Linked DNA regions of Homo sapiens. The protein of the gene in region 2 purifies or fractionates together with the protein of the main gene of each other region. This does not show direct contact. Each region holds a gene or a part of one and is shown on either strand. Other genes may lie near its edges. The genes, in order: NFXL1, SLC2A13 and CDKAL1.

Region 1 (3,659 bases), on a different chromosome or scaffold from region 2:
TTTGGTCATGTAGAGTGAATCAGAAATTTAACATGCTCTGGTTGGGTAGAAGAGTATAGCAGATACAGATGCCTTTTGTGCCTAGAGTCACATCTAGTTGGTTTACTCTGATTTCAGCTGCAGGGAATGCATAGTCTCTGCATGCAGATAGAAACCCACTTTAAACATTTGCTGTGTGTGTGCGTTTTTTCCGCCTCTCAATTTTGTTCTTGGAAATTGACTTAGCTAGTACATGGGTATAGTGCAGAAGCACTGGGGAGTTAAAGCCCCTTGCAGCAACATTGCACCACAGGGAGTTGGTAGGTGAATGCCCCAACCTCCTTTCCATTAGCGAGTGGGGCTGGGCAGTCCAAGGCGTGTTTTACATGGTTTTACAGAGGGTCCCCTGGAGGATTGAGCTTCTGTGGCCCTTAGTGGTAATCAGCTCAACCATATGCCATTCATTGGTTATTTCTTTTTCCCTGTCTAGTCCCCTTACTCCTGCATCCAAGTTCTTAGATACCGCTTTGGGGGTAACCCAAACTAAGAAGTCGGCTGTTTAATGCTGTTGTTAGCTCATGCGATATGCTACATGTCTGATTTTATCAAACAGTTGTAAAATGTTATAAGGAAAGGGGAACTGATTTTTATCAGTTTTATCAAAGTGTTTGGCAGGTTTTAAAAATTAATTTAGTATTATTTCTTAAGCTTTTAAATTATGTATATTCTTGTTTTTTGATTACCTAATTTTTAGAATTTAGCATTAGTTAGGTGTTAGACTAATAGGTTTTATATAACAAAAGGGCTGTGTAGAGATATATGTACATATTTATGTTTAAAGATTCTTTTGTAGTGTTATTTATACTTGGAAATAATCATCCAACAAGAAATTTAAGTACGTAAGTCTACATGGTGTAATGTATAGCTATAAATATGCTTATAGAAAAGACTATAAAGTTACATTTCAGTTATTATAGTATGACCTCATTTTTTAAAAGTATGAAAAAAATATATATATATAAATTTGGAGATTGTCCAGAATGTTAGCAGTAATTATTTCTAGCTGAATGAATCTGTTTGACTAATAATAATTTTCTTCGAAGTATCCTACATTTAAATGCATTTCCCATGAAACAGTTCTTCTGTTATACTGGAAGGAAAGACCTTTTTTCTTTAATCCTTAGGTAGCTCTTGAAAATAGTTTAGTGTGATACTCATTTTAAATTATTTTACAATTAACAAAGAAAAATTAACATATATTAACTTCTGATACATTTGTCTTAGGTTTGGAGCTGTTCGGGATGTTTCTGTATATTTCACATGCCCTGTATCCAGAAGTGGGCTAAAGACAGCCAGTTTCTTGTATCTTCTGTGACTGATGATGATTTTGGAAAGAAAGATTGTCCCTGGCCTTGGTAACTTTTTCTAATTAGTTGGATTATTATTATTATTTTCAGATGGAGTTTTGCTCTTGTCACGCAGGCTGGAGTGCAGTGGCGATCTTGGCTCACTGCAACCTCCACCTCCTGGGTTCAAGAGATTCTCCTGTCTCAGCCTCCTGAGTAGCTGGGATTATAGGCACCTGTCACTATGCCTGGCTAATTTTTTGTATTTTTAGTAGACACAGGGTTTCACCATGTCTGCCAGGCTGGTCTTGAACTCCTGACCTCAGGTGACCCACCCCAAAAAATCCCAAAGTGCCAACTAGGCTGGCACGCCACCACGCCTGGCCTAATTGGATTATTAAATTGTAGAATAAATGAAGATTGTAGATTCTAAGTTGCTTTATTGGTGGTTTCAATATCCATGTTGGGCTTTTAATTAGTCATTTGGTGTGTGAAGATGTGGAATCTTGATAAAGTCTTGTTTTTTTCAATTTGAATTTCTATAACTACTAGTTCCTTTTGATAACTAATAAATCATCCAGACTTAATTTTTCCTGTGCAAAACAATTCCTTAATTATCCTTTGAAAGGACTTTCAATTTTCTTTAGGACTGAGAATCATTCATAATTGTGATCTTCTTGTCCAGAATTCTATGAGTATGCATTATTATTACATTGTACAAGACTATCATTTAATGTATTTTGATTATAAGATTCCCAGTTTTATCCTCCCAAATCTCAAAACTGCAGGTGTATATTATACAATATCATTTTTTTACATTTATTAGTTTTGCTTATTATTGATGATTATTTGATCTGGAGAACTTTTGTTATATTTCCAGAAAGAGTTGGAGAGTAGAATTTTATATCTCTGCTAAGTAAAGACAATAAGAAATTTATTCATATTGGCTGCCCAGAGAGGTAGATTGACTGTCAAAGTAATGAAGCATAAGCTTCATGGGCTCTGTGTGGTCACATTTTGTAACTTTAGTAACTAATTTTATGTTTAAATTTTTTTTTTATTTTAATTTTAATTTTTTTTGAGACAGAGTTTTGCTGTATTGCCCAGGCTGGAGTGCAGTGGTGCGCTCTTGGCTCGCTGTAGCCACTGCTTGTCGGGTTCAAGCGATTCTCCCGTCTCAGCCTCCAGAGTAGGTGGGATTACAGGTGCCTGCCACCATGCCTGGCTAAGTTTTGTATTTTTAGTAGAGATGGGGTTTCACCATGTTGGCCAGGCTGGTCTTGAACTTCTGGCCTCAAGTGATCCACCCACCTTGGCCCCTCAAAGTGCTGAGATTACAGGCATGAGCCACTGCGTCTGGCCAGTGGTGTAGTTTTTAAAAACATTTAGATGTGCTAGTTACTTTTAGAAGAGTATGTAAAAATAATTCTCAGCAATCTGTGAGAGATTTTATTCTCCTGTTACCAGTGGGGATATTGAAGTTAATTGAAGGGAAATGACTTCTGACTCCTCACTCTTAAGTAGTGGAGCCAAAATTTGAAACCTAGGATTTCTTACTTTTAAATTCAGTGCTTTTTCTATTCTTCCACCTGAGTTATCTCTTATGACCTGGCTTTTAGAAATATTATTTTTCTTTTCATTGAATACACACTTTTTGGAAACTGTTTAACATTTCAAAGTATATTTGTTTTGCTCCTGCATATTATTTACTGGTGGTGGAGGAATTTTAGTGTCTAATAGGTACGGAATTAAGCCAGGTTTTAGTTTAGAGATTTAAACCTTATGTATATATTTTTTTACCCTCGCTCTTCTCACTTCTGTTTTAAGTAGTCGTTTTGCCACAGAGGAGGAAAGGATCAGTTAAAAAAAATGTACTGTTAACTTCTAATTTAAAAGGAACAACAGTTTAATCAGCTGTGCCATATACTTTGCATTCCATATTTCATATTTTTTTAAGAAAATAAATGACCATTCTGGTTAAGAACCCATTTTGTTTAATCCTCATCAAGATGGAGCTAGAACTTGGTAAAATGTTAATAATTTTAAGTTATTTTATGGAAATAAAAAATTTAAAATATAGGTTTCTACTAAGATACTGCTTTTTAATGAAGAAGATCTAGCATAATTACATTTCATTGTTGGCATCCCATTATTTAAAATAAAACTCATGCGTTTGCACATATTACCCTCACTGGGCCAGTTCAGTTTCAATGCTGATGGGCAGTGTTAAGGTATGTTGAGTTGCCTATTAGTCATCCATACCCACGCTTATTAAAAATACATATCCCCCTCCACACTAGCTTTTTCTTTTAATAAAAAAAAATTGAACTCTTC
Region 2 (2,937 bases):
TTGAAAGCATGATACGTAATCTGTGTCTGCTTTAATATGGTAGGTCAAATCACATCATATATAAATTGTCCTACAAAATATATATTTGATGATACTACAAATGGAATGTTTCCAAGTTGATAGTGGTAGCCAAATATGCTGGGAACTTAAAAGGTGCCTAATATAAAAAAACCTGCAAAATTTAAACATTTAATTTTTAATATACTATAAATGTTCACCAAATCTAAAAATAATACCCTAATTGTATAAGGTTCCTTTTCAAGTAATTGTTTCTAAAAAGTTATAAATAATTCTTATACTGTGCCTCTCTGTCTTATACTTCAAAGATATGGAATATTATCTTTAACACTATATAAATAACAAATAGTCCTTTAAAGTAGGGGCTCAGGGGAGTAGGGGAGGAGAACTGTGGCTAATTTTCCCTGTTATTATGTGCATTTATGGTTATAAAGTTGAAAACATTGTTTTCTTATATCAGGGAGAACAGGCCATGTTCTGCTTTAGGAAATAACAAGAGTCCAGTTTCTCCTTTAATAAAGTTACTGTGCATCAGCCCAGCTGAGTTTATAAGTATATAGTTAGTTAAGGCTACATATACAATAAAGAGAAGGATTGAGGCAATTATTTTGATTAAGTCCAAAAAATAAATTTTTAGAGAGCACTTTATTGGTCTACTTTTTCTCCTTATTATATTTTGATTGTACCATATAGTAGCTTATTTTTCACTTCAATTTACCTGTGTAAAATATTAGATAAGAAATTTCTTATGAGATAAGAAATATCAATAGAATAATAATTTTCCCTATTAAATCATATCTGCTTTTCTGAGGAAAAAATCAATACTAATATTCCCTTGGAAATCAATTGTTAAAGCACCTAATTCAAGGAAAAAACCTCTATAAAATATTAATTTTTTTTATTATATGAAATGACCAAAGGGAGAAAACGTTTTTGTTTTTGGTTAATGGATTTTTAGGGCACTAAATTGACAGTTTAAGCACATATTATACCTCTGGTGACTTAGAGAATGAACTTCCTCAGCTGTATTCTCAGCTTGATAACTGTGATAGGAACAAGCCAGACATTAAAAGAATAGAGTATCTTGGAGACTGGAAGAAATATTTTGAATATGGAGATAGCCACCTTTTCTCTCCAAATACAGTACCTTATTAGATGTTTAGAGCCATTTAAAAATGCATCAAACTGATGTATTCCTAACTGGCCACAGAAGATTCATTCATATTTTTCCTGGAACTAGCAAGTAATTTTGTGATCAAGTAATTTTGTACATACTATATAGTTCTTAATAGAAAAGCAAAAATTAAGAGTTCAGTGATGAATTACCATAAAAACCAATGAATACCTTGGAAAGACATTGTGGAAATATAATTAAGCCTGCATTTCTTATAGACGTGCTATATTAGAACCAATTATCTGTTCCAATAGGCAATCTCAATTTTTACACAAGAAGGAAAAACTAAGCCAAGAATAAGAAAAACACAGAGACAAATCTATGTATCTTTTTTTTTTCTGGTAAATTCTCAGGAAAATGAGAAAAGTGTGCAAAATAAAAACGAGTTTATGCTCTTAAAGTAAAAAAAGACAAGTACAATTAAATAATAATATGTGACATTTCCCTTAGGAAGAGCTAATAAAAAGTTAAGAAAAAAGTCCCATTATTTTTATTAAACAAACACCAATAACAGCAGGATTATTTCTGCCACTGATTTCCTTCCTCTTTTTTGTTTCAAAAATTATTGTTTGAATAAAAGAAAGGGGAAAAATGGTTTGCTTGCAGCTATGTATGTAACACAAATGAAGGCACGAAATAGTAGGACTCCAAGGCCAATGAGGAAGGTGTAGTGATTTGGGCATGAACAAAAACTGACCCTGATATACAGTTAAAGATCTGGCACTATTTTGCATTTATAATTGCATACCTAAGTGACTAACCAATTTGGAACCCATAAAAACCTTTAATCTGTTACTTTCTGAACATAAAAGGTACTTCTCAAAACTTCCTAGCTCATCTGCGCAAATGTATGCCTTATCACTGATGCAAAAAAAAGAAGTATGAAAACAACCCGACAGATTATATTTTCATAATGTTCAAAAGATAGTGTGCAGAGTCAGTATCTGAAGAACTCCCAATATCTGAATTGGAGAGAAACAAAAATATGGAATCCAAAGGAGATACGGACAGCTGTGCCCTTGTAGGAGGCACTTTGGAATTTGTTGATGAAAGCTTACATGGAATTTAGTTTGTAACAGCTGATCAGAGATAAGCCACTACTCTGTAGGAAAACTGAGGGCCAATAGGCCATCTTTTGACACAGAACACCCTTGGACCATCTCCCAGAATCCTTTATAAATATATTATACATATGTAATTTGGCTAGATTAGCACTGACTCTGTTGCCACTAATAATTATAAATGGTCTTAGGAAAAAAGGATACCACTGAAGTCACTGGGTACAATATTCATTTTAGACTATTTCAGGAAGGCATTACACACATTTGCTTAAGAATTATTAGATTAAAATCTCTGTAAATATTTTTTAAAATATTGTTCCTTGTGGAAAAAAAAAGTCATCATGGTTGTATCTTCCTCCTAATCAAGTATTCTAGAATATGAAGTCAATCAAAACTAGGCTGTGGAAAGAACCAGATTAGAAGCAGGGCAGTGAAGTCACCAATTGCTGTTCTTCTCCCCCCAGTTTGTTTAAATAACTAAATATATGAGCAGCTGAAAATTATTCCACATCAGAAGCATCATTGTCAGAAAGATGATAGTTACTTCCCTTTACCCGAATATATTCAATATATCTCCCTTCATCAGAATCTGAAGTGCCACATGTACATAGCCTGTTGTCAAAGAGTGATTCAATTTCCTCTAATTTTTTGCCTTTGGTCTCAGGAAGACAGCCATAGATGAAA
Region 3 (3,659 bases), on a different chromosome or scaffold from region 2:
GAGACGGGCGGATCGCGAGGTCAGGAGATCGAGACCATCCTGGCTAACACGGTGAAACCCCGTCTCTACTAAAAATACAAAAATTAGCCGGGCATGGTGGCGCGCGCCTGTAGTCCCAGCTACACGGGAGGCTGAGGCAGGAGAATGGCGTGAACCCAGGAGGCGGAGCTTGCAGTGAGTCGAGATCGCGCCACTGCACTCCAGCCTGGGCCACAGAGCGAAACTCCGTCTCAAAAAAAAAAAAAAAAAAAAAAAAAATTGGGTAGACCAGTTCTTCTTACTTTACTCTTCTCAAAATTGTTTTAAATATATTAGTTTCTGTACATTTCCATATAAAATTTAGGATAGTCTTATCTATACCTACAAAAAAATCTTCCTGGGATTTTGATAGGGATTATTTTAAACTTGTGTATCAGTTTGGTCTCCACTGACACTGCAAAACTTCATTACTGGTCGGTTGGTTGGTTTGAATGTCCAGGATCCCTCCAGGTCCTTCTCTGATTCTACACTAGTGGAGTGTGTTGGGGTGCTTGATTGTAGGTAGAAGTCCAAGCTCTCCCCACTTGGCCTTTGTAGCGTGCCTGGGGGTGGGATTACAGTTTTGTGTGTGTGTGTGTGTGTGTGTGTGTGTTTGTGTTTGGCTGGAGTAGAATGATTATTATCTAAAACTTTTCTGTCTTCCTAGGCTGCCCTTTGTATAGTTCTTTAACGAGAAAGCAGGCTTTTATTGGGGGGTTTTATTGTTGGCATCTCTTGCCATTTCTGATTGCTGGGATCTTTAGTGAGCTGTAGGAGGCAGAAGAAAACCCAAGGAACTCATCATATTCCTTGGGTCCTGAGGTTCATAGCCAGTCTGCCTTATGCTTGTTTTATATATAATGTCCAGAGTTTTATTTGTATTTTGCTGGCGGGGCAGGGAAAAATGTGCTTATCTTCTTGCAAGCTGTGTCCACATTTTCTTCTTTTAATTATAAAAATTTTGAATATTTAGAAAAGTCGTATAGGATAATGAACATGAACCTATCTAGTTTCTAGTTTTAAGAGTTGTAAATGCTTTTCAGTATGTCTTAATCTATTTTTTCTTCTTTTTTGAGATGGAGTTTTGCTCTGTTGCCCAGGCTGGAGTGCAGTGGTGCACTCTCGACTCACTGCAACCTCTGCCTCCTGGGTTCCAGCGATTCTCCTTCCTCAGCCTCCCAAGTAGCTAAAACTGCAGGTGTACACCACCATGCCTGGCTAATTTTGTACTTTTAAAAGAGATGGGGTTTCACCATGTTGGCCAGGCTGGTCTCAAACGCCTGACCTCAAGTTATGCGCCCACCTCCCCAAAGTGCTGGGATTACAGGCATAAGCCACCCAAAGTGCTGGGATTACAGGCATAAGCCACTGTGGCTAGCCAGTCTATTTTTTCTGAGGTCCTTTTAAAGTAAATTATAGACATAATGACATTTCACTTCTAAATATTCAATATGCATCTCTAAAAAATAAAATTTTTGAATATAAGGACAATACTTTATATCGAATGATTTATAATAACTTCTTCATATTATCTAATATCCAGCTTATATTCTGATTTCCCTAGTTATACCCAAAATTTCTTATAGCTTGACAGACAAAGAAGAAACAATCAAGAACATGAACTGCATTTTGTTGTTAGGCTTTTACGCTTCCTGTTATCTGAAACAGTTCCTCTCCTACTTTTTCCTACTTGACATTGATTTGTTGAAGAAATAGTTCCTGTTGAACCTTGGAATGTCCCATTGTCATTAGGGTTTTGTCTGATTGTTTCATTGTGTTTCTTTTTTCAATATACCCAAGATAGTACTTCATCCTTGTGTTTCTTTATCTCTTGTATTTTCTATAAATTTGAAGTTAGATCCAAAGGCTTGATTAGATTCAAATTTGGTGAGAATATTTCATAAATGATGCTACGCTAAGCAGATTTTCATAAGTTGATTTTATTTATAACTTTTATGTGGTAGAGAATATGCCTTCTGCATCCTGTGATACACTACTGGATGACATCGAAGATATCGTGTCTCAGGAAGATTCAAAACCACAAGATAGGCATTTTGTAAGAAAGGATGTTGTCCCGAAGGTACGAAGGCGAAATACCCAAAAATATTTGCAAGAGGAAGAAAACAGTCCACCAAGTGACAGGTAAGCTTTTTTCCTTGAAATTATATTCATTTTCTTTTTTTTTCTTTTGAGACAGAGTCTTGCTCTGTCGCCCAGGCTGGAGTGCAGTGGTGTGATCTCGGTTCACTGCAACCTCCTCCTCCTGGATTCAAGCTATTCTCCTGCCTCTGCCTCCCTAGTAGCTGTGATTACAGGCACACACCACCATACCTGGCTATTTTTTGTATTTTTAGTAGAGATGGGGTTTCACCATGTTGGCCAGGCTGGTCTTGAACTCCTAACCTCAGGTGATCTGCCCACCTTGGCCTCCCAAAGTACTGGGATTACTGGCCTGAGCCACTGAGCACGGCCGAAATTATATTCATTTTCATTCCAGGGAGAAGCTGACGCTACTGGTCTGTGTGATATATATAATGTCTCTTCATTAGAATCTTTGAACTTTTGATAGGAAATACAAGTTGAGTATCACTTATCTGAAATGCTTGAGACCAGAAGTGTTTCAGATATCACATTTTTTTTTTTGGATTTCGGAATATTTGCATTACATACTTTCCAGTTGAGTATTCCTAATCCAAACATCTGAAATGCTCCAGTGAGCATCCTTTGAGTATCATTTTGGCACTCAAAAAGTTTCAGATTTTAGAGCATTGTGGATTTTGAATTTTTGAATTAAAGAAACTCAACCTGTATGTAGATTTTTTTTTTATTTGAATGATTTTAAATTTGGCAAGGTAATTGGTTAAAAAGAAATGAGATGTCAAATTGGATGTTCCTAGAAGATAGCCTCGGGCAATAGGGATCTCTTGGGTATTACTGTAGTTGATATGTAAGTCTGTGTTATTTCCAAATAAAATTTTTACCAGAGTTTGTGATTCTTATGAGACAGTAGTATTTTGGACATTTGAATTTTCTTAGCTGATTTTCAAATACCTGTGGATCAGGTAAAGGCAGTGGGCACAAATAAATTATTGCCCTATTTACGCTATTATAGTAGATCTCTAGTCCGTGAAATTTTGATACAACCTAACCAGAAAGGATAATGTAATTATATGGTTTTAATAAGCCTATATTTGTTTATCTAGTCAACTGCTGAACTTTATAATCTGCTTATTTTGTTGGGAAACTAAGCTTTTAAATTCTTGGAATTTAAAATTTGCTTATATTTTAATGACTGAAGTTTATAAAATTTGTCCTAAATGTGTCCTTAAGGTAATTTTTATTTACTTATAAATTATTAGAGCAATCCAAGTTGAAAGTCCTTTTTTCCCCTAAAAGTTATTTTTAGAACTCTGATTTTATAGAGTGCTTTTAATAATGCTTTAGGATGACGGTTTTTAACTTTGATTAAGTTACTTATATCTGTAAGTTTTAAGGAAGCTACAGATTGCAACTAGTATGTAGGAATCTGTAAACAGACATACTTTTCTTTATTTGCCATTGCTGCTAGAACCACTTTCTTTCCTATTGTTATTTTTGTGTACCTTTCCAGGAGTTGAACTTAGTAAGTTAGTAGTATGAAT

What was found.
Region 1: the proteins of SLC2A13 (region 2) and NFXL1 purify together in Homo sapiens (affinity purification with mass spectrometry; one large-scale study listed by BioGRID and IntAct). This does not show direct contact.
Region 3: the proteins of SLC2A13 (region 2) and CDKAL1 purify together in Homo sapiens (affinity purification with mass spectrometry; one large-scale study listed by BioGRID and IntAct). This does not show direct contact.

What each region holds. Positions count from the first base shown.
Region 1 is NC_000004.12:47,900,928-47,904,586, reverse strand, and holds part of NFXL1 (NF-X1-type zinc finger protein NFXL1), read left to right. Parts: intron 1-1,263; coding exon 1,264-1,394; intron 1,395-3,659.
Region 2 is NC_000012.12:39,757,273-39,760,209, forward strand, and holds part of SLC2A13 (proton myo-inositol cotransporter), read right to left. Parts: coding exon 2,754-2,937; 3' UTR 1-2,753. UniProt on the Homo sapiens protein: H(+)-myo-inositol cotransporter. Can also transport related stereoisomers.
Region 3 is NC_000006.12:20,544,364-20,548,022, forward strand, and holds part of CDKAL1 (threonylcarbamoyladenosine tRNA methylthiotransferase), read left to right. Parts: intron 1-1,975; exon of another isoform or gene 1,976-1,982; 5' UTR 1,983-1,987; coding exon 1,988-2,160; intron 2,161-3,659. UniProt on the Homo sapiens protein: Catalyzes the methylthiolation of N6-threonylcarbamoyladenosine (t(6)A), leading to the formation of 2-methylthio-N6-threonylcarbamoyladenosine (ms(2)t(6)A) at position 37 in tRNAs that read codons beginning with adenine.